4 linked regions of the Homo sapiens genome follow. The protein of the gene in region 1 purifies or fractionates together with the protein of each later gene. This does not show direct contact. Each region holds a gene or a part of one and is shown in the gene's direction. Other genes may lie near its edges. The genes, in order: ASF1B, MMS22L, CDIN1 and TONSL.

Region 1 (7,970 bases):
CACATTCCAGGTACTATGCTAAACCCACCCTTTACATAGATTTATTCTTTTTTTTTTTGAGACGGAGTCTTCCTCTGTCACCAGACTGGAGTGCAGTGGTGCAATCTAGGCTCACTGCAACCTCCACCTCCCAGGTTCAAGCAATTCCCCTGCCTCAGCCTCCCAAGTAGCTAGGACTACAGGTACGCACCACCACGGCTGGCTAATTTTTTGTATTTTAGTAGAGACAGGTTTTAATCATGTTTGCCATGATGGTCTCGATCTCCTGACCTGGTAATCCGCCCACCTCGGCCTCCCAGAGTGTGTGACTCACTGCGCCCAGCCAGATTTATTCTTTTTGAAAAATTGATTGAGGACTTTCTATGAGCCACGTCCTCTGCTAAGCTCTGGAAGTACAACATTGAGAGGTGTGAGCTAGGCGAGATCTCTTCTCACAACCAGCTTTCAATCTACTGAGGGATGATGAGATAATAAGCACAATTTAAAACCAAAATAAGTAGAAATTCTTTTTTTCTTTTTAAGATGGAATCTCTCTCAGTTGCCCAGGCTTGAGTGCAGTGGCGTGATCTCGGCTCATTGCAGCCTCTGCCTCCCCGGTTCAAGCAATTCTTCTGCCTCCTGAGCAGCTGGGACTACAGGCACGTGCCACCACGCCCAGCTAATTTATTTATTTATTTATTTATTTATTTTGTATTTTTTTTTTTTAGTAGAAACGGGGTCTTGCCATGTTGGCCAGGCTGGTCTCGAACTCCTGACCTCAAGTGACCGGCCCGCCTTGGCCTCCTAAAGTGCTGGGATTATAGGTGTGAGCCACCATGCCCACCCGAAAATAAGTACAAATTCTGATATGCGTTACTAAGATCATAAAACTGAGTGATGTGATTAAGAAAAAGCTACTTTATTTATTTATTTATTTTTTTTGACACGGAGTCTTGCTCTGTCACCCAGGCTGGATTGCAGAGGCACGATCTCAGCTCACTGCAACCCTCACCTCTCAGATTCAAGCGATTCACCTGCCTCAGCCTCCCAAGTAGCTGGGACTACAGGCGCCCGCCACCACGCCCGGCTAATTTTTTGTATTTTTAGTAGAGATGCGGTTTCACCATGTTAGCCAGGATGGTCTCGATCTCCTGACCTCGTGATCCGCCTGCCTTGGCCTCCCAAAGTGCTGGGATTACAGGCATGAGCCACCGCGCCCGGCCAAGAAAGTGCTACTTTAAATAGGGTACTCTGGGAAGTCTTCTTTCAGAGGACATTTGAGCTGAACCACAAGCGAAGAGAAAGAGACAGCCATGCAATTATCTGGAGGAAGCACATTCCAGGCAGAGGGAACGGCAAGTGCAAAGCCCTGCGGCAGAAATAAGCTGGGTGTGTTGAAAGAAGGGAAATAAAGCCAGCTGGGCTTGAGAGCGGTGACAAGAGGAAGAATGGTAGATGAGGCCTGAGAGGTCAGCTGAGGCCACCACGCAGGGCCGCCTAAGCCATAGGAAAGATCTTAGGTTTCATTCTAAGTAGGATAAGCCTCTGAAGGTTTTAAGCAGAGTAATGACATGATCTGGTTTACAAGTGAAGATCATTCAGCCAGCTGTAAGGAGAATGCATCATAGACAGGGCCACATTCTTCATTAGCGCCACGGAAATAATGCTGGTGGATCATGAGCTTCTCAGGGGCTACGAAAAGGTCAGGGACAGGGATAAAGGGAAAAAAGTTCCACAATGCAAAGAGAAAACTACAAAGTTGGAATGAATAAATGTTTAATTAAGCATCTAGAAATGTGACATCATGACAACTGCATTAATCATTAAATTTAGTATTCATAAGCAATCGAATTACATTTGGAAATTAGATTTTCTCAAATCACAAATATCCCTAAGTATGCAATGATTGCCAAGAAATCAAGCGAATCATAAATGTGAGTTTCCTTGAAGCCAAATAATTTCAAAAGAATAAAAACAAAGCTTTCGATTTTTTAACAGCTAAAAAGAATTTTTCTTAACTTAATGTGAGATGTAGATACCAAAAATGGGCTAGGCGCTGTAATCCCAGCACTTAAGGACAAGATAGGTGGACTGCTTGAGGCCAGGAGTTTCAAGACCAGCCTGGGCAACAGCGAGACCCTGTCTCTACAAAAAATTTAAAAAGTATAAGAGGCAGGGCACGGTGGCTCATGCCTGTAATCTCAGCACTTTGGGCGGCCGAGGTGAGTGGATCACCTGAGGTCAGGAGTTTGAGACCAGCCTGGCCAACATAGTGAAACCCCATCTTTACTAAAAATACAAAAATTAGCTGGGTAAGGTAGCGTGTGCCTGTAGTCCCAGCTACTCGGGAGGCTGAGGTGGGAGAATCGCTTGAAGCTGGAAGCAGGAGGTTGCAGTGAGCTGAGATTGCGCCACTGCATTCCAGCCTGAGTGACAGAGCAAGACTCCCTCTCAAAAAAAAAATAAAATAAAATAAAACAAATTAGGCATGGTGGCACGCACTGGTGATCCCAGCCACTCGGGAGGCTGAGGTGGGAGGATCACTTGAGCCCAAGAGTTCCAGGTTATAGTGAGCCACGATTATGCCACTTGCACTCCAGCCTGGGCAACAGACCTCTATTAAAAAAAAAAAATCCCACAGGAACTGGATTGTTTAAAAAGAAAAGGAAAAGGAAAACATACTAGCACAGTGAGTGAGTCCTAGTGAGCCCACAGAGGTGACTGGGTAAGAAATACTAGTGCCTTGGCTCAGTGCTGTTCAGGCGTACGGCCTGTGAGTTTGAACACTGTCCAGAGCACCCTTAGAAAGGCCTCTCTGGGGAGAGGACATTTGAACAGAGACTTGAATGACAAGAAGGCATAAGCCATGCCAAGAGCCTAGGAGAAGAGGTTCTGGGCAGAGGCTTTGCACTGGGAGTGGCTTGTCAGAATTTTAACAAAAAGAGGGTTACTTAGCCTGGTTTGAAGTTGGAGCTGGGTGGTTAACAGGAGACAAAGCATAGAGTTTCAAAGACAATGCTCTCATCCGGAGAAGTGACCTGGTCAAATGTGTTTCTGACCTTCGCTGTCCAGTAATACAGGAGCCACTTGTCACACGGGCTCAGGAGCACTCAACTGCGGCTATCAAGACAGCTAAACTGAACTTTCTTTTTTAAAATTTAATTTTAATTTTTAGAGACAGGGTCTCACTCTGACACTCAGGCTGGAGTGCAGTGGCTGGAGCATTCTGGGCTCAAGAGATCCTCCTGCCTCAGCTTCAGGAGTAGCAGACACTACAGGTATGCACTACCACACCTGGCTTATTCTTTTATTTTTTGTAGATATGAGGTCTTGTTATGTTGCCCAGGCTGATCTTGAACTCCTGGCCTCAAGAAATCCTCCATGACCAGCCTCTAAAATTACAAATAATAATAAAAAAAGATATGGCCGGGCACAGTGGCTCACGCCTGTAATCCCAGCACTCTGGAAGGCCGAGGCGGGCGGATCACTTGAGGTCAGGAGTTCGAGACCAGCCTGGCCAACATGGTGAAACCCCGTCTCTACTGAAAATACAGAAAAAAAATTAGCTGGTTGTGGTGGTGGGCACCTGTAATCCCAGCTACTCAGGAGGCTGAGGCAGGAGAATCGCTTGAACCCGGGAGGTAGAGGTTGCAGTGAGCCGAGATCGCGCCATTGCACTCCAGCCTGAGTGACAGCGCGAGATTCCATCTCAAAAAAAAAAAAGTGGCTTCCAAAAAATGTTAATTTTACACCTAATTTTGGTGCGCGGCTGGCATTATTTTTCCACTGGGCAGCACTGATCGCCCGTGGGGGCAGAGACTCTGAGACCTGGAGTCTCCCAGGCCGGGGGCGACGGCCCAGACGGGAGGCGGTGGAGAGAAGTTTCCGGATGTATTATGTGGTCATGAATCATGTCAGGGAATTGCCACGGCCCCCGTTGAATGGGGAGGCGCTGCCTCGGGCGCTGAGTAGCAGAGCCCGGACTCTGAACACTGGTCTGCCCCCGAACTGGAACTCCCATTTTCAGTACCGTCCGCTTGAAACCTCCCAAGAGCCCTCAAGGGGGCGAGAGAGGGATCCAAACCCCTCGGGGGCGAGAGCGGGATCCGAACCCCTCGGGGGCGAGAGCGGGATCCGAACCCCTCGGGGGCGAGAGCGGGATCCGAACCCCTCGGGGGCGAAAGCGGGATCCGAACCCGGCCGGATTCCCGAGGTCTGAGCGCGCCTCGTGACCGCCACTCCGAACGTTCGCAACGTTCACAACGGACTCCCGCGCCGCTGGACCTCAAGGGTCAGGAGCCACTCAGAAAAGCTCCAGGAAACGCTCACCTGTTGACAGACGCTGAGGCCGCAAACGCTCCTCCTCTCTCTTCACACTCGCCAACACCGCGGTGGCGCTCGACTTCCGCTTCTCTCCAGCGAATCCCCAGCTGAGCCTCCTTCTGCTCCCGCCACCATTACCAATCCAGCCAATAAACTCTCAGAAAACCCTCTTTATCTCCGCCCCACTCCCTCCTGCCAATCACTTCGGGTGCGAGCACCGCCCTTCCCGCCTTCTTTAGCGAGCGCCGCGCGCCACCGCTCGGCGGGTGGCGGCGCTGCGCGCTGCGGGATGCATCTCCCGGAAAAGCGAGGCGAGGGGCGGGCCACGCCGGTGCGGGAACCCTCAGGATTGGCCAGAAGGAGGCCGGCGCTGTGACTCCGTCCATTCCCGCCGTTGACATCCAAGTCGGAGACGCTGGGGATTGGTTTCCAGCGGACACGCTAAGAAGCTTGGAGATAGTTTCGCCCTCCTCACACGCTGCGGAGAGGGAGCTCCGCTGATTGGTCCGAGGAGTCTGGGCGCGCGCCGATCGGCGCTCCAGGACTGGCTGAGGGGGTGCGCGCGCCGCCAGGGAGCGTTGGCGGTGATTGGCCAGAGGGCGGAGGCCGGCTATTTGAAGGCGGCGCGCGGACTAGGTGCGCACTTCAGTTCTCGGAGAGAAGAGGCGGGAGTGGACCTGGTCAGCCCTACCCCACTGACCCCACCGGACCCAGGCGCGGCCTCCGCCACAGCCACAGCCCCTGCCCCTGCTGCGGCGCGGCGAGGCGAGGCGATGGCCAAGGTGTCGGTGCTGAACGTGGCGGTCCTGGAGAACCCGAGCCCTTTCCACAGCCCCTTCCGGTTCGAGATCAGCTTCGAGTGCAGTGAAGCCCTGGCGGACGGTGAGGCTGGGCCTGTGCGGGGACCCCCACCCCCGGGCCGACCCCGGCCTCCCCTCAGAGAACCGCTCCCATGGCCAACTTGATCTCCCCCATGAAACCCCTCGTCCCCCTTCCGCCAACCCCGATCTCCCCCAGCCCGCCAGTCAACCGGATCTCCCGGTGGAGACCCCCCGCCACCAGCCAACACGGACCTCCCCGTGACCTCCTCCCCCACTGCCCGCCTTGACCTCCCGGGTGGAGACCCCCCGCCAGCTAACTCGGACCTCCCAGTGGCCTCTTCCCCCACTGCCCGCCCCGACCTCCCCATAGAGATTAACCCCCTCCAAGCCCCATTTCCCGCGTGGGGAACCTCATCCATCTTTTTTCTCTGGAGCTCTTCCTAGGTACCCGTTTTCATGGGGAGACCTTCTCGGCCTCCATTTCTTAACCCACGGAGATCTTCAGCCACCGTGGTTTCCCTGTGGCAAGACCCCCGCTTCAACCACCCACCCATTTTTGCCCACTTATTCCCTCTTTCCTGTAGTGAGATACTCACACCTCCCATTTTCCCTCTGGAGACCCCCAATATCCAGCCCCTTCCCATTTTCCCCGGGGGAAATCCCAGCCATCTCCTATTTTCCCTATGGAGACCTCTCACCCAAGCTCCTCTCTCCTTGCCGTGAAGACCCTCCCCTCCAGTAACCTTTTTTTCCTGTGAAAACCCCTCAACCCCTTTTCAGGACCTCTCTCAACCCCATCTTCCCATTTGTGTCCCACCAGTCCCCTCCCCAACCTGCCAATATTTCAATAACCCCACGCCCACCAGTTGCTGCCGCTTTTCTGCCCCAATGCACATACCCTGGAACCTGGTTTCTCTCCTTCGTTGGGGCCCAACCCCCCTATGCTTGAGCTCTCCCTGGGAAAGGATGCTACCGTCTTTGAGGGGAACTTTGTCTCCCCAGCTCCCCTTCCCCACCTTTCTCTGTGGGCTTGGATAAACACACTGAGATCCGAGGGGTGGCATAGCCAGGCAGGCATTAGCTAGTTCTCCAGGTTTGCCCACCCGTTTCCAGCTGAGTTACTGCAGCAATTTTTCTGTCACTTTTTCTTTCTTCTTCTTCCTCTTCTTTTTTTTTTTTTTTTTTTTGAGACAGTCTCACTCTGTTGCCCAGGCTGGAGTGCAATGGCACGATCTCGGCTCACTGCAACCTCCACCTCCCGAGTTCAAGCGATTCTTCTGCCTCAGCCTCCCGAGTAGCTGGGACTACAGGCGCCTGTCACCACGCCCAGCTAATTTTAGTATTTTTAGTGGAGGCAGCGTTTCACCATGTTAGCCAGGTTGGTCTCGAACTCCTGACCTCAAGTGATCCACCCGCCTTGGCCTCCCAAAGTGCTGGGATTACAGGCGTGAGCCACCGTGCCCCGTCTTCTTCTTTTTTTTTTTTAATATAGCTGGATAATCAGTGCCAAGCTCCCGTTGCTTTTGATGGTCTGACCTAGTCTGGGGGGTGGGTGGATTGGGCTGAGCTGTGACGGGCTCCAGCTTCAAACAGTCGGCTGGAGCTTGGAGGTCACAGCCTCCTGTACATCTTTTCCAAGGTGCTTCCGTAGATGTACTTATTAATCTGTGTGACTTAAAGGTGGGCATGGCTCTCATCTCACAGATGAGAAGACAGGAGCCACAAAACGCAAAAGACCTTTCAAGTCAAGGCCTGTACAAATCCAAAATCTAAGGTCACCTAGGGAGCCTTGGCACCACTAACAGGCAAGTCCTGCTTTCAGGAAGAAGTACTCCATTAGGCCATTTTTCTACTTGGTGGTTGAAAGAGAAAAGGCAGCAGCCGAGGAGGTGGTGATCTGGGGGCCTGTGAAGCCAGGATATGCTAACTAGTGCCTCTCGGGGGCAGGTAGGTGTTTTGCCCTCAAAGCTGGTCGCCTGGACTAGCTTGGAGCTGATAGAGTGAGATGTGGATGTGCTTTGGGTAGGCCAGTGGGTCTGTCTCTCCCCGGTCTCTCTCGCTCCTTTTTAAATTAAGGAGTCTACTTGTGGCTAACTATAGAATATGCCGAGTTAAATCCTTTCTGGAACAAGGCAGCGGGTAAATAAATAAATAAAGTGTAGAATGACGCTGTGGAATAAGATTTAATTTAAAAGCCAGGAGGAGATGGAAGGAAGTAATAGGTTGAGGGATTCCCAGCTCCCCGACGGCAGGAGATCAGGTTTCAATCAGCCTGTTTGTGTTCCTTGCATTTAAAAATGGTTGTGGCCGAGCGCGGTGGCTCACGCCTGTAATCCCAGCACTTTGGGAGGCCGAGGCGGGCGGATCACGAGGTCAGGAGATCGAGACCATCCTGGCTAACACGGTGAAACCCCGTCTCTACTAAAAAACACAAAAAATTAGCCGGGCGTGGTGGCGGGCGCCTGTAGTCCCAGCTACGCGGGAGGCTGAGGCAGGAGAATGGCGTGAACCCGGGAGGCGGAGCTTGCAGTGAGCCGAGATCGCGCCACTGCACTCCAGCCTGGGCGACAGAGCGAGACTCCGTCTCAAAAAAAAAAAAAAAAAAAAAAAATGGTTGTGCGGTCATTATCTGGTACTTCTACTCCTAGGAAGCCCCTGCCCTGTGACTTTACTAACTTATTTATAGAATTAGAGCCGGAAGGGCTAAATTCAACCTGCTGGTCCTTTTTTTGTTTTTTTGGAGATGAAGTCTTGCTCTTGTCCCCCAGGCTGGAGTGCAATGGCGCGATCTTGGCTCACTGCAACCTCCACCTCCCAGATTCAAGCGATTCTCCTGCCTCAGCCTCC
Region 2 (5,594 bases), on another chromosome or scaffold:
TTACGCTTGTGATACAAGTCTTCCCATTGTAATCATACCATCATTGTCCTTAAATAATATTCCATGAATGCATTTTATTACCCGTGAGCATTATAATATTTCGGAAGGTTAATGAACTTTTACATGTCATTTTTAGCACACATTTTATATATAAAAATCATACTTTAATACATCTTAACATCTAGGTTTACTCACAATAGATATAAAGCATTACTTTTTAAGAAGTGTTGTGCTAAGCCTGCTGGATGGATGGCTGAATAGATGGATGGATGGATGATGGGCAGACTTAATTTGTAAATACTGAAATGAAAAATAATGAAAATGTTAATATATTTGCTTTCTTTTCTTTTTTCTTAAACAGGGAAGCCTATAGCAAACTTTTGTCTCACCTTGGACAGATGGGACAAGATGAGATGCAGAGACTGGAAAATGATAATACTTAATATATTTTGTGATTCATCCTGTCTATTAATTATCAGTATCTAAAGCCACATTGTTCCACTCTAATTCCTACTTTTAATTAATTGTATAATGTTCTGTTTAAAATAATTTCTAGGATTTTTTTTCCTTTTATATCTGTAAGTAAAAAATGTATAAATAAGGAACTGAAGGTTAATTAGCAACTGTGTAATAGGATCCTTGGAACTTTTTACAAAACTGCATTCTACCTTGATGAAATTTTAGTTAAACTAAATTAAAGAAACATTTTCTGAGAGTGTTTTCTGTGTGTGAGTATTAAGCAGATACTTCATCCATAGACTTTTTGTTGTAGTATGACTTCCTGCCTCCCTGCCTTGTGACTGATTTGTCATGTTTATTTTTTATTTTTACAATAATAGTTATGTTTTAAAATGATACTTTTTCAAAGTACCTGGCTACCCTATACTGTGTTTTTGGTGGGGGAAAGGTGTTGGGAAATGTGACTGTGTATTTGTTTTTCTTTTTTATATGTGTGAGGCAAGTTAACAAAGAAAACCCTTACAAAGCACACTTAACTGTGTTAGGAATGAGACTGAATCTGGCTAAAGGATTATACAGCTGATATCCAAAAAGAAGTGTAAACATGCCAACAGGGTTTATATTTAGGTTCCAAGAGTTGCCAAATTTTTTTTTTATTCATCCTTTCTTTTGGAGTTGTCATTAAAAAAAAAATCATATCAGGAGGAGGAAATAAAGGAGACTTTAAGAGGAGAGTAAATAAAAATATTCTAGAAAAGTAACAATAGTAGTGGTCTGAGAAGTCAGCTGATCCATCTTCTTGCTCTTTAGCCAGAGCTTCTTATAACTTAGCATTTTATCCAAGAAACCTGTTTAGTTTCCTTTAACAACATTGTTTCTCAACTTTTGAACTCTTAACTCATCCAGATTGTTTTACCAGTTGGAGCTTGTCCTTGACTCCTTTTCCTATTGAGCATTATTTGGTTGAAAGAGCTCCAGTCCTAGTTTTGGGAACCCACCTGGGTCTCAAACTCAGCTTTGCTTTATGATCTTGAGCTAGTTACGTAACCTTTCTCAGTCTAGTTTCTTCATGGAGAAGAAAAGAAGAATCCCTTTACTATTTGACAGTGTTGTTGTGAGAATCAATGGGATAATGTACGTGAAAATATTTGGTGGCCCAAATTCTGTTGGGAAATGTACAGACACGATTAGTTTATTACTCGTGCACAATTAAGGCAAAGAACACCTCTCAATTTTATCTTTCTCTAATGATATGTCCCAGATGAATGATCCCACTTTCCAATGTTTTCTTACATCATGTTTTCTAACTTTGAAGTACTTTGTTTCCTTCTTGGGATTATAGTCTTTATCATGGTTCTACTCTTCCTTCAAGAAAACATTTCAACCCTTCTCTGGCTCAAGGAGTATCTTTAAAAATGAAATACTTTGCAATCAGTATTCTGTAGTTAATAGCGTTCTCTTAATTATAATCTGTGAAATCCAAAGGAGTGTCTGTTATTTTCATAACATATAAATGGTCCTTCTCTCAAATCAGCTTCATCAAAGGGAATAAATGAAAGCTTAAGGCTGTTTAATAGACTTCATAACACTGAATTTCTTTTCATCATGATAGTGACTTACTAAACAAATAATGTATGGCTTGGAAAGTTCCAGCAGTCACTAAGGAGTTTTATCTATTTAAGGTGATGCCTTTAAAGAGGTTATTTATGTGTATATGTGTTTTTGTGTGTGTGTGTGTGTGTGTGTGTGTGTGTGTGTGTGTGTGGGTTTTTTTTTTCCAAAGGAGATTGATAAAGATACCTTTGAGAATCTTGCTCCTTAGAGTATGAAAACGTTTAAAGGATAGGAAAAGCTGCTACTGAATCATGCTTTAGGACATATATCTATAGATACTAAGAATAACTAAAATTTGTACTTAAGAATGGTAACAACAAAGTGTGTAACAATATGTGTGTGTATTATATGTTTTGTATTTATGTATAAGTAACTTTTTTTAAAGCTTTTTTTTAAATTGAAAAAAGAAGAAAATTTATGGCTCAGTTCCTTTTTTTTAAAATCTTCACTGATCCTTCACTTATTACTACAATCTTGCCCTCTTTCATTCCCAGACTTGGAGTCCCTTATACCTGCTTCTTTAATAGCCACTTTCCCTAAATACCCTGTAATTTCTGAGGCTGCTGCTTCTACCAGTGTAATACAAGCCATTGTCTTTTGGTCAAATCTGAGTTTGTTCTCCTTTCTCATGTTCTTTGTCCTCTCTGTGACAATTGTATTTTCTTTTATCTTCCCATCATTTCCACAATGGTACTGCTCCTTCCTACATATACAGTTGACCCTTGAGCAACACAAGTTTGAACTGTGCAGGTCCACTTATATGTGGATCTAAAATACAGTATTTGTGGGATGCAAAATCTGAGTATATGGAGGACCAACTTTTTGTAGAGGCAGGTTCCTCAGGGTTAACTGCAGGACTTGAGTAAGTGCAGATTATGGTATGCACAGGGGATCCTGGAACCAGTCCCCAGACCAAAAATGACCACTGTATCTTGAGAGCACCTTCATGGTCTTCTTTCCTGTCCCCAGTCGTAAGATACGACCCTTCATCTGCTTTGTCTCAACATTCTGTTAGTGGTGAACTGATAACTCCAGCTTTTCTCTCTCTTTTTTTTTTTTTTTTTTTTTTTGTTGTTGTTGTTGTTGTTGTTTTGAGGCAGAGTCTTGCTCTGTCGCCCAGGCTGGAGTGCAGTGGCACGATCTCGGCTCACTGCAAGCTCTGCCTCCCGGGTTCACGCCATTCTCCTGCCTCAGCCTCCCAAGTAGCTGGGACTACAGGTGCCCGCCACCACGCCCGGCTAATTTTTTTTGTATTTTTAGTAGAGACGGGGTTTCACCATGTTGGGCTCGATCTCCTGACCTCATGATCCGCCCGCCTCGGCCTCCCAAAGTGCTGGGATTACAGGCGTGATGAGCCACCTAGTGCTAATTCATCTCTAAACCTCTGTAGTTGGAGTCTCCTGAAATCTCAGACTACCTCCTGCTTTCATTTTCTACCCAGGGAATACACTATTGTCCTAAGTTATTTAGCCTTGAAATGTCAGAGGCATTTTAGGTTCTTCATGTTTCTCCCACTTTCAGTTGATTACCATTACAGGATCTTAGGCTTCTTTTTATCTTTTTGCAGTGCCTTGCATCCACTGGTTGTTTGTTTTTTCTGTTGGGCACTACTTATTTCCTTACCTCTGGTTTCTTCTCCTACAGCTTATGTTCTGAAATGTGTATTCCTAAAATACTGTTTTCCTCTTGTTACTTTTCTGCTCGAGGACTTCCAGTAACTTACCATTGTTTATAAGGTGATGTTCAAACCCTTCAGTCTGGAGACTTTCTGCCACCTATCTGACTGTACCTTTATCTTCAAGCTTATCTCTTTCCAAACAAGAGGCTCATTTAGCAGCTTTCTCTGATTGCCATGTTCATCCTACACTCAGCCTCATTCAGTTTACAGCATGGAAACTGTATAGGACCTCTTTCCTATAGAAATTGAAGACACTTAAATAGGAAGAAAATTAAAATATACATTTGGATACATGAGTATTCCAGTCAAATAATATCTATAAAATACCAGATAGAGTATAAAAGACAACTGAAGGACAACAGAGTGATGAAAGGACTTTATTAGGCATTTGGATTTGGTTATGATTTAAATTTCAATTTAATTAGAACGTTTCCATGGCAAGGAAGGAAGCATGGAGGACTGTGGAAAAGTCATTCAGTATTGAGTTCATTTGCATTAGAGGAATTTCATAGTTTAAAACTTGTATATCTTTACCTATCCTTCGTATGTTTTCTTCTTAAGCATATTTGACTTTTTCTACCTCAGCATCTGTATAAGAAAATATTTGTGAGTCAGATGTTTGTGGGTTTTCCTTACCTATTATTATTTTCTTCCATGCTTTACAACACATTTTTTAAACTACCTTGTTCTTAAATAATTACACGGACCTGCTTCTGTGTACTTTCACAGAATCTTTGACAGTTAAAAATTGTATGTTATATAAAAATTTGACAAGCTTCTACAGTTAGGAAAAGCCTTTAGAAATCTGCCTTCCCCAAACCGTATGTTATCATAGCACTCATGTCTCCCCATGTCTAAAAGGTAAATAGATACAGAAACCTCACCAAAAGTTGAATCATCTGTACTAAACCACTGCTTTTTTATCCAGACTTTTTATATAAATCTTTTATTTTCCAAAAAACTGATCTTTTACCTACCCCTCTTAGAGTTAAAAATATTGCCTGTCAGGCAAGAGTATAGTATGCCAATATAAATAATATGCTTTATTTGGTTAGAAACAGTTGGTTTGGGAAGCTAGCAACATAGCATATTCTTTACAAATTTAATAAGGTGTATTTTGATACTGTGATAACCTGCATTGTAAATTACCAAATGGTTGGAATTGACCAGTTTATACTTATTAAAATTTTTGATGTGCCAATGGCTATCCAATTCATTGCATTTGTGAATTGTGCTTTTAGAAAAATTGTGGACATTTTAGTTTTATATACATATTTATGAGTTATTTGTGCATATGATAAAATTATATATAATAATAAAAGTATATATGTAACTTACATTGTGCCCTTGATTATTGAAAACTTCCTTTTTATAACAGATTCACTGTTTGGAAGCTAAAGTAAAAATGAGCCATGTTACCAGAAGTAATAATTTCTATCTTATTACTGATGTTTTTATACTTTGTGGTAAAACTATGGAAAGTTAGGTTTTCAGATGCTGTGGTAGCTGAAAGAGTTTGATGTACATGTGGTTAAAGTGTGAAGAAAATATGAAGGAAAAAGTATGAAAAGTACCCTAGTCATTACCTAATTGCTATTTTGTTTTTAAGGATCTAAGAAGTGTTATTGCATTGTACAGATTATTTTAGAAATTCACATCTTTGCTGGCTTTTCCTTTAACACCAAGAATATCTGTTATCATCTGTTTGGTACTGTGTTTTGTTTCCTCTTTTAAAGTAAAATATTGAAGTGATATTTAAATGTTTGCAAGTCTCATGACCTTCCTATAGAAATTCACATTAGTATAATAATTTACATTACAAATACAATATAGCCTTTAATTT
Region 3 (4,157 bases), on another chromosome or scaffold:
AGGGGTGCTTCACTGATGGGAAGGTTTGTGGCTTCTCAGACATGGTCCACAGAATCACAAATCTTTCTGTTCTTGCCAGACTTGTTTTGACAAATCTGAGATCATTTGACACTAATCATAGAGCTCTTTGTAAAATAAAGGTACCAATGGTTTATGTTCCAATTACAGACAAGTGTTTGTGATTAAAAGTTACTAAGAAACCCTCGGTTAAATGGAAGCAAGTTCTTCTGCAGGTGTGAGCTTCGTCTTGTATGCATTTGAGCCTGGGGACCCACACACCTGTGCACAGGTAGCCTAATTCTACTGACCCCAAAGGAATCTCTTCTTTGGGGATGCTGAGGAAGAAGAGAACATCTGCAGCTGATAAATCTCAGTGGGCCTGGTGCTCCAAGGCTTCTAATTATACCCAGTTCCTACATCTTCTAGAACAAGATCAAGTGATGAGCTGCCATCTCATGGTTCTGTACCTGCACAGAGGGGAATCCCAAAGTTTTAAATAATCTTGAATACAACTTGGCTACCCCACTAATGTGGATCCCCAAATAAACCAGGCCGTGACATCCAATTGAACTTGTCCCTGTGCATACAGTATCTCGCAGCCCATCCTGTATTGTTAGTTTTGGCAAGTACACTACAGCATATAATAAATCATGGAAGGCAAAAGCTTTTTGGCCTAGCATGGTTCAGCCTGCTGTAATGTTAGAATACAGAAAGCAGTTCTGTTTTTAGACATGCTTTTACTAACCCAACATTCATAATTTATTATTTCACTGTAAAATTCCTGCAACACTACACCAAAAGTAGTGCTGCCCTTTAATTAAGTGCCCTCGGTAGGAAAAACGTGAAACTGATGTGCAAAACATCTCTCTGTGTGCAGTGATTGATAGTGATTACATCTTTATGAACCCAGCCTAAAGGTCTCAACTTCCTGATGGGTGAAGTAGTCCATAGGGCCACTTCCTGAGTCTGCCTGGCGGGGATCAGTCACTGCTAACAAAATTGCAGATAATTCAGAGGGCACAACTTAGAAATGCTGAGGTTTTATTAAGCCCGTAGCGATCTATACTTTGTCACAAGCCTATATGACCTTATTCCTCATTTCCGTAAGCACCAATGACCAAACTTTATGCTGTGTCCACACTTAAAGAAGTTGTAATGCAGAGAGTAAAGGGACCCAGTGTGTCATATGGATGACAGGAGGTACTTCCAGCCCAATGGGTGCATAAGTAGAACAGTATAGCCAGAAGAGGACCATAAGTTGTTGCATTTTTTTAAATTCTGTTTTCAAACATTCTTTTATTTTTCTTAGTTGCTATTAGGCAAGTTTAATTTTTTAAATAGTACCATTAAATGTTAGACTTAAATCCCAAGGCTGGCATTCCCCAGCTCATTCCTGTTTGCACTGTGAATCTGTCCTCCATCAGCTAGGTAGTCACATCAGCCCAAGCTCATAACACCTTACTGAAAGGTAAGATTCAGAGTTTCCATATCTGAAATACTTCAGGTTTCTGGAAAGAAAGGGAACACATCCATCCGAGAAGGTAGTATGTGTGTTATGTGAACTCTTTGGTATAAGTTTGGCTATTTTCAGTCACAATGGTAGCAACCAAAACAAAAATTTTGTGCAGTCCTGTCATTTAATCATCTTATCAGTGCCCCAAGGTGACTTTTTTCAAGAGCTCTGTTGATACCATGTGTGTGTGTTATTTTCTGGTGTTTTTACAGATTTGGGCCAGGCTTAGTCATCTATTGGTATGGATTTATCCAGGAGCTGGACTGCAACCGGGAAAGGGGCATCCTGCTCAAAGCCTGTTTCCCCACGAACATTGTCACCTTATGCCACAGCATAGCTTGACCCTGAAGATCCTGGAAGAGAAGCTGGGAGGAAAAGGTGAATCCGGAAGCAATTTTACTTTCCTGCACTGTAAGATCCTGGCAACATCTGCCCTGAACTTCAGCTGAACTCTTGCTGCCCGTAGTCACACCACTACCTCTTTAGACAAACATATCAAGAGTTTCTGTTTTCCTTCATCCCTTGCTGATGTGAACAGCCAAGAACTACAGACACAACCCACTCATTATCAGCATTTCTGTCTCTGTCAAACAATTAGTTTATAGATAGTCATAATCTTTCTTTCTTCCGGATGGTTTATCCTTGTATGCTGAACAAAAGAAAAAATGTGAAGACTGAAAGGTGTGATTTTTCAATTCTCCTCCCAGTTACCGAATCACCCTCTTATTTTTTTTTCCCTAAGCCTCCGTTCACTGTCTCTCCCTCTCCCTTTCTCTTCATGTGCACTCACAGAGACCCAGCATTGCATTACCATCGTGGAATAATCTAGCGCAAACCTAGGAAAGCTGAAGCCACAAAGTCCAAAGCCACCTTTGTACTCACCTGCAGAGCTCCAGAAGACCTTGATGGCAGCCTGCCTATGCTGTGTGTTTGCTATATTCAATCTTTACGGCTTCCTGACTTCTGTGACAGTAAGCCAAGTGCAAAAATACACTTGATGAGAATTTCCTCTTTTAATAATGTTATTTGAACACCACATATTTTAGATTTATCTTATTTGAAAGTATTAGTTCCATTGTGCCTGGAAACCACACTCCTTTAGATTGGGGGCCGAGAGGCGACAACCCAACATTGAGGAGAGTTTATTTTTAAACATGGCTAGTTGTCAGTATGTACGTGAGCTAGTATTTTTATGAGTCGAGTTTTTTAAAGGCACATTCTGTATACTGCTTAGTATATGCATTTTATACCATGTAATTATAAAACACTCGAGTAAGTTCAGCATTAGAAATGTTTAGCTTTGTATGAACTGAGTGTGCCAGAAATAAACCTGGAGCAATTTTTAAATAAGCAAAATAAAGGAGATTTTTCTATTTGTTCACTTTAATTTATTCACTTTTGTGTACTTTTATGTACTGCAAATCAGATTTCAGTCTAAAGCGAAACATCAGTAAGTTAATAATAAACCTATCTTTTGGGAAGTTGAATATTAATCTGTACCCAAAACGTATTTAGTAAAATATTTGCCCCCGCCACCCTGCCATGCTGACATAACAACTTTTATAATGTTGAATAGATGATATGGGAAATACTAATAACAACAATGTAATTTTTGCAGACAGCTTTAACTTATATACATTGCTTGATTTTTTTCAAAAGACTAAATATGTCATTTATACTTTGTTTATTTTCTACCAAAGAAGGTTTGTAAAAATATGCCTGCTGCTTTTCCTTTTGAAGGACACAAACCTGGTCCCAACATGTGTGGATTTTAACTCTGAGTGGGGTGCATTAAATCAAAAGAGAGAGGCAGAAGATGAAATGCTAAAGAAGGGTCAGGCAAACTTCTGTTTCAGTATAAAATTCATCATGCAGGCTTCTGAGTGAAATAGAATGATTTGAAACCACTACTGTATTGCCTGGATACACACACACACACACACACACACTTTATACAAAAATGTTAAAAGCAGGTTTCCTGGCATGTTCTAAACTGTTTTTTCTTTAGGAATAAATTACATTTATCTGCACAGATGTTGAAAATCCTGTTAAACCCTTGTCAAGGATTTGTTTATTTTACATTAAACAAATTTATTATGATGAACGTGAACAAATAAATTAAAAAATAAAAAAGGTACTTGCGTTTTGTATTTATTCTTTTACCTGCTGCCCTGACATAATGTGTTGTGAGAAGGTATTGGTGTTCCTAGCAAAGGCACTACCTCCTCTTTATGAATGAGGCTTTAAAATCTGGCCCTTAAAAGTGAGAAAGAACCCAACAGTAAACTGTACACACTACAATAAGGTTACAAATTAGTCAAAAGTAAGTTTTTCACACATAAAAACTAATGTGATAATTATACTACTTTTGAATTGGAGCTGTATGGGAGAGAAGAGAGTAATGTTCCCAACTGGAAGCTTAAAGTCTCCTTGGTTTGTTTCTTTTTCTGTTAAAAATACTTGTCTGTGTTCCATCTCTATGCATTGTCTGCTTGCTGGTTTTTTTAGTTTAGACAATATAAACATCAGCCCCAGAAAGTAGACACGGAATGACAACTTATTTTTATTGCTGTCATCATTAGAACATTAACATTAAAGCCAAATCTTGTTTTATGGTGCATTCTGCACACTATGCTAATGAATT
Region 4 (6,204 bases), on another chromosome or scaffold:
CAGGGTGCTGCAGACCCACCCCGGCCCCCAGGGCCTCACAGTGCTAGACCCACAGGCATGTGCGAGTGGGCTCTACAGCAAGTCTGGTGGGTGACCCCTGGGGCTGTTGAAAAGGGGCTGCCTGGTTTGCCCTCTGGGATTCAGAGGGCAGAAAGGGCCGGCCTTACCCTGGTGACATCACATCCCTCCCGCAGGGGAGCACCAACAGGTGCTGCAGGCCGTGGAGCTCCAGGGCTTGGGCCTCTCGTTCAGCGCCTGCTCCCTGGCCCTGGACCAGGCCCAGCTTACACCCCTGCTGCGGGCCCTCAAGCTGCACACAGCACTCCGGGAGCTGCGCCTGGCAGGGAACCGGCTGGGGGACAAGTGTGTGGCTGAGCTGGTGGCTGCCCTGGGCACCATGCCCAGCCTGGCCCTCCTTGACCTCTCCTCCAATCACCTGGGTCCCGAAGGCCTGCGCCAGCTTGCCATGGGGCTCCCAGGCCAAGCCACCTTGCAGGTATAGGCACAGAGAGCAGCAGGCCCTCAACAGCGGGGAGTTGGGGTTCCCATTCTGCAGGTCCCTGGGTGGTCTAGGGTAGTTGGGAGAGCCAGCCAGTGCCCGGCTGTAATAGGCTATGCCAGGCAAGGTGGGGAAGAGACTGCCAAGCCAAGCCCCAAGGGGGACCCTGTCCGTGGGACTGCTGGGGGCTCACTGCCAGCCTGTGTCTTCCACAGAGTTTGGAGGAGCTGGACTTAAGCATGAACCCCCTGGGGGACGGCTGTGGCCAGTCCCTGGCCTCCCTCCTGCACGCCTGCCCCTTACTCAGCACCCTGCGCCTGCAGGCGTGTGGCTTCGGCCCCAGCTTCTTTCTGAGCCACCAGACAGCACTGGGTAGTGCTTTCCAAGGTGAGCTGACCAGGCACTCCCTGTCCACTCCCTAGCCCTGGGGCATTGAGGGTTTCCAGGACTTTCAGAGGGGGCCCAGGCTGGGCACACAGGGGCAACACCTGTGGTCCCAGCTACTTGAGAGGCTGAGGCGGGAGTATCGCTTGAGCCAAGAGTTCCAGGAAAGCCTGGCCCACATAGTGAGACCCCATCCCTTAAGAAAAAAGCGTCTAGGCCGGGCGCAGTGGCTCACGCCTGTAATCCCAGCACTTTGGGAGGCCAAGGCGGGCAGATCACGAGGTCAGGATATCGAGACCATCCTGGCTAACACGGTGAAACGCCGTCTCTATTAAAAATACAATTAGCTGGGCGTGGTGGCCGGTGCCTGTAGTCCCAGCTACGCAGGAGGCTGAGGCAGGAGAATGGCATGAACCCGGGAAGCGGAGCTTGCAGTGAGCCGAGATCGCGCCGTTGCACTCCAGCCTGGGCGACAGAGCAAGACTCCGTGTCAAAAAAACGAAACAAACAACGTCTAGGGGCCTGGGATGCCAGACCTGGCTCTCCGGGAGGGCCTGGCACCTGGGAGCAATAGATGGATGTGTGGGTACAGGGTCTGCCTCCGAGGGGCGTCTGGTGCCCACCCAGCCAGGCTGACCCCCGCAGGACACACCGAGAGCAGAGTCCGGGCAGCTAGTGTCCTGTGGTCCCCATCCCGTGCTCGCCAGCTGAGTGCTGTTCGCCTGAGGCAGTTCCACTGTGAGCCCACTCAGGCTGCAGAGACTGGGGTCCCAGTGCCAAGAGGCTGGGAATTGGGTGTCATCCAGGGGGAGTGTAAGGGGGGCAGCAATGGTCAGTGCACTCCCCTGGCACCCCCACTGTGCAGAGGCATGTGGCCCAGGACCGTGTGGTTGTGGGGTGGGAGAGGGCAAGTTGTCCAGAACTGGGGGCAGCCGAGCTTGGAAGTCTGGCCCCGCCCTCCCAGCTGGGAGAATCTGGGCGAGAGCCTTTGCCTCTGCACTTGCCACCCCACCCTGCGAGCACTGCGGTAGTGGTTTCCCCAAAGGGGTCCTGAGGGTTCTGGGCCCAGAACTTGGGGTGGGTACAGGGCTGTGGCCACGTGGGGCTGACGGATTCTGGCCCCGGTGCAGATGCTGAGCACCTGAAGACCCTGTCCCTGTCCTACAACGCCCTGGGAGCCCCTGCCCTGGCCAGGACCCTGCAGAGCCTGCCCGCCGGCACCCTCCTGCACTTAGAGCTCAGCTCCGTGGCAGCCGGCAAGGGTGATTCGGACCTCATGGAGCCTGTATTCCGATACCTGGCCAAGGTACGAGGTGGGGAAGAACCCAGAAAATACTGAGCCTCAGAGGCCAAAGGTCCCAGGGTTGCTGGGAGGAGCTCGCCTCTCCCCAGATTCGGGCTGAACTCGCTGAGGGGCTCTACAGAGAGAGTTAGAGGTTTGGAGGTTTAGAAAAAACAGCTGGGGGGCCAGGCGCGGTGGCTCACGCCTGTAATCCCAGTACTTTGGGAGGCCGAAGGGGGTGGATCACAAGGTCAGGAGTTCAAAAGCAGCCTGGCCAACATGGTGAAACCTTGTCTCTAGTAAAAATACAAAAATTACCCAGGCGTGGTGGCGGGTACCTGTAATCCCAGCTACTCGGGATGCTGAGGCAGAGAATTGGTTGAACCCGGGAGGCAGAGGTTGCAGTGAGCCTAGATTGCACCATTGCACCCAGCCTGGGTGACAGAGCGAGATTCCGTCTCAAAAAAAAAAAAAAAGAAAGAAAAAGAAAAAAACAGGCTGGGCGTGGTAGCTTACGCCTGTAATCCCAGCACTTTGGGAGGCCGAGGCGGGCGGATCACGAGGTCAGGAGATCAAGACCATCCTGGCTAACATGGTGAAACACCATCTCTACTAAAAAATACAAAAAATTAGCCGGGCGTGGTGACGGGCTCCTGGAGTCCCAGCTACTTGGGAGACAGGCAGGAGAACAGCGTGAACCCGGGAGGCGGAGCTTGCAGTGAGCCGAGATGGCGCCACCGCACTCCACCCTGGGCGACAGAGCGAGACTCTGTCTCAAAAAAAAAACAAAAAAAGAAAAAAACAGCTGGGGGAATGCTTTTGTACAGCTGCCTGTCTCAGGCTGTGAATTCCTGCCCACCAGATAGGACCCGGGACTCAGGGTGATCTTGCCCCCCGCCAGGAAGGTCCCAAGGGGCACACTAGGGCCCCTGATGCTCTCTCCTGGGGGGTCTTCCAGGCACAACTGGGACCCTATTATTTTCACACTATCACGTGCAGAGTGTGACCCACATCAGGAGAGGTGTTTCCTTCCGATCTCCAACTTGATGGGGGACTCTGCTCCCTTCTGGGCCCCTGGGTGTGGTGCACCTGCTGGGAAGCAGGCAGGGCAGGTGCGCCACTCCGTTTGGCCCCCTTGGGCCTCTGCTCATGTCCAGGAAGGCTGTGCTCTAGCCCACCTGACCCTGTCTGCAAACCACCTGGGGGACAAGGCTGTTAGAGACCTGTGCAGGTAACGCCCTTTCCCTGCTGCCTGCTGACCTGGGGGTCTGATCTCATGGCTCTGGACCCTATGGGAGAAGGGCCACAGAAATGGTACCAGCTCCTCCTCCCCAGCACATCCCAAGACCTGGCTCCTTCGGTTTCCACCAGCCTCTCAGGCTGCCCTGGAAGGCAGACTACCCTCTGGCTTCTTTCTTAGCATGGGCCTGTGGCTCTTGAGAGCACTCCTCCGGGGGTGTCCTTGTCATTCCTGTGCCTCGGCCCACATGAGGGCACTGCTCTTATGACCTGGAGCCTCAGTCAGCTCTCTGGGGAGTGTTGAGAGGAGCCCAAGCTGGGCCAGGCACACCCAGAGCTGGCCACTGTGGCCCTGACCCCTGGGAAGGACCCCCAACCCTAGAGGGCCACCTGCTACTGGGCCAGGCTGAGGCAGAGCCCCTGGGTCTGGCCCGAGGCTCCCTGAGCTGGCATTTGTCTGGGCAGCTTTCCTAGTGTTGGGGCACAGCCTCTCTGGAAGCCAACCTTTGCACTTCTTCCCATGTTATCTCAGATGTCTCTCTCTGTGCCCCTCACTCATCTCACTGGATCTGTCTGCCAACCCTGAGATCAGCTGTGCCAGCTTGGAAGAGCTCCTGTCCACCCTCCAAAAGCGGCCCCAAGGCCTTAGCTTCCTTGGCCTGTCAGGTGAGTGCTGGTATGGTGGCCACGCCTGCCATGTTCGGCCTTTTCAGGGACCTGCCTGAGACCCAGGTGCCTCCTCCTAAGGGGCTGTCACTGCTACCAGCCAGGCAGCAAGGCTGGGCTCCATGAGGCTGGGGCAGCAGGGGGCAGAGTGACAGTGACAGAAAAGGGGCATGATCCCAGCTCCTAAAACCATGGGTTAGGGGGCGAGGTGGGTATCTGCCTCTGGTCTCTCCAACCCAACCTTCAGAGCAGACTATGGTAGGCAAGACCCTGTTCCACAGGGACTTTCTTCTTGTCCCTGGCAGGAAAAGGGATCCCAAGGTCAGGGTGTTGAAAGCTGCCAAGGGACCCTCCTACTTCCTGGCAGGGGCTCCTCTGACACAACCCTGCCCAGGGCTGTGGTCTGATTTAGCTTGTTCTCTCTTGAGCCACATCAGGGCAGTCCCCAACCTGAGCTGTCTGGAAGACAACCCCAGGAAGGGCTTTGATGACCTGGCTTGCCCCACTGGGGCCGGGGCAGGCTGTGCCCTCCAGGGGATGAGGGCTTAAGTGAATGTGCACGAAGCGGGGCTCTGCTTTCTTCCTGTGCCCCCTCCCCTTCACCTCCCAGGGCCAGGCCGCCTTTTCCAGGAAGGCCCCCGAGTGCTGGTGTGAGACCCCTTCCCCACACCTCAGTTCCTGGCATCTGTACCTTCCCACCCAGCTCCCTGAATTCCTGAGCTTAGTGTTCTCTTGATCCACTCAGGCCCACGATGTACAGATTTGCAAGCAGATCCATTATGTCCTTCTTATGGGTGGGGAGACTGACGTGTAGGCATGGACTTTGAGATCGGGCACTGTCAGAGGTAAAGAAGGGAGCCACCCTTCCTCCTGTCTGACCGCTGGCTGTGCAGATGATCCCACCCCTTCCTGGAGAGTCATGGGGCCTCTCCGGAGCTCTGCCCACTGCCCCTCGCTACAGCCCTGGGGCCCTCAGCGAAAGCGAGTTTGTTCCCTGGAGCCTGCCGCGGGCACCAGGACGCCGCCGGCCCCCGCAGCGCTGAGGTCTGCCCTCTTCCCCTCCGCAGGCTGCGCCGTCCAGGGTCCCCTGGGCCTGGGCCTGTGGGACAAGATAGCCGCGCAGCTCCGGGAACTGCAGCTGTGCAGCAGACGCCTCTGCGCTGAGGACAGGGACGCCCTGCGCCAGCTGCAGCCCAGTCGGCCGGGCCCCGGCGAGTGCACGCTGGACCACGGCTCCAAGCTCTTCTTTCGGCGCCTCTGACCCTGGCGCTGCCTTTCCCCACCCTCACCGAAGCCCCTAATAAATGAAGCTGCTGGCCGGGCGCGGTGGCTCACGCCTGTAATCCCAACACTTTGGGAGGCCCAGGCGGGCGGATCACGAGGTCAGGAGATCGAGACCATCCTGGCTAACATGGTGAAACCCCGTCTCTACTAAAAATACCAAAAATTAGCCGGGCGTGGTGGTGGAAGCCTGTAGTCCCAGCTACTCCGGAGGCTGAGGCAGGAGAATGGCGTGAACCCGGGAGGCGGAGCTTGCAGTGAGCCGAGATCGCACCACTGCACTCCAGCCTGGGCGACAGACCGAGACTCCGTCTCAAAAAAAAAAAAAAATAAAATAAATGAAGCTGCTGCCTCCCTCCCCGTGGCTGCCTGGCAGGCGGGTGGGCGGGGTAAGACCGGGCTTCGAGTCTGCTGCGCCGGTTACGTCCCGGGGGCTGCGCGGCTGGAGGGAATGTCCCGAAGTCCGGGCGGGCGCGGGCGCAGGCGTGAGGGCTGAGCGCCGAGCTGCCGATGGGGACGGAGGGGCGGGGGGTCGCCCCGACGCGCGCAGGCGCAGACATGAGGGGCGAATGCCGAGTCGCTGACCGAGCGCACCCCGCCCCCGGCGCCATCTTCCCGACCGCGAGCCGTCCAGGTACCCGGGGCCCGGCCGGTGGGCGGGGAAGGGGCAGAGTGGGGAGAGGCGACTCAGGGCCTGGCACCCTCTGGGCGCGCCTAGGCCCCGGCACAGCTTCGGCTGAGCGCCGCAAAAGTCACGTTATTGGCATGTTCTAGAAACTGGCTTTCCTTGCTCGTTGTCCACTCTGCGAGGTTGTTTTGCACATTTGCTTGTGGCCGCAGAACGTCCGCTTTC

What was found.
Region 2: the proteins of ASF1B (region 1) and MMS22L purify together in Homo sapiens (co-immunoprecipitation; 5 studies listed by BioGRID and IntAct, with this or other methods). This does not show direct contact.
Region 3: the proteins of ASF1B (region 1) and CDIN1 purify together in Homo sapiens (affinity purification with mass spectrometry; 5 studies listed by BioGRID and IntAct, with this or other methods). This does not show direct contact.
Region 4: the proteins of ASF1B (region 1) and TONSL purify together in Homo sapiens (affinity purification with mass spectrometry; 6 studies listed by BioGRID and IntAct, with this or other methods). This does not show direct contact.

The regions. Positions count from the first base shown.
Region 1 is NC_000019.10:14,133,562-14,141,531, reverse strand, and holds the start of ASF1B (histone chaperone ASF1B), read left to right. Parts: upstream 1-4,942; 5' UTR 4,943-5,075; coding exon 5,076-5,184; intron 5,185-7,970. UniProt on the Homo sapiens protein: Histone chaperone that facilitates histone deposition and histone exchange and removal during nucleosome assembly and disassembly. Cooperates with chromatin assembly factor 1 (CAF-1) to promote replication-dependent chromatin assembly.
Region 2 is NC_000006.12:97,141,655-97,147,248, reverse strand, and holds the end of MMS22L (protein MMS22-like), read left to right. Parts: intron 1-361; coding exon 362-443; 3' UTR 444-5,088; downstream 5,089-5,594. UniProt on the Homo sapiens protein: Component of the MMS22L-TONSL complex, a complex that promotes homologous recombination-mediated repair of double-strand breaks (DSBs) at stalled or collapsed replication forks.
Region 3 is NC_000015.10:36,806,599-36,810,755, forward strand, and holds the end of CDIN1 (CDAN1-interacting nuclease 1), read left to right. Parts: intron 1-1,725; coding exon 1,726-1,855; 3' UTR 1,856-3,646; downstream 3,647-4,157. UniProt on the Homo sapiens protein: Plays a role in erythroid cell differentiation.
Region 4 is NC_000008.11:144,428,270-144,434,473, reverse strand, and holds the end of TONSL (tonsoku-like protein), read left to right. Parts: intron 1-194; coding exon 195-496; intron 497-714; coding exon 715-886; intron 887-2,013; coding exon 2,014-2,189; intron 2,190-3,322; coding exon 3,323-3,396; intron 3,397-3,936; coding exon 3,937-4,070; intron 4,071-5,137; coding exon 5,138-5,331; 3' UTR 5,332-5,699; downstream 5,700-6,204. UniProt on the Homo sapiens protein: Component of the MMS22L-TONSL complex, a complex that promotes homologous recombination-mediated repair of double-strand breaks (DSBs) at stalled or collapsed replication forks.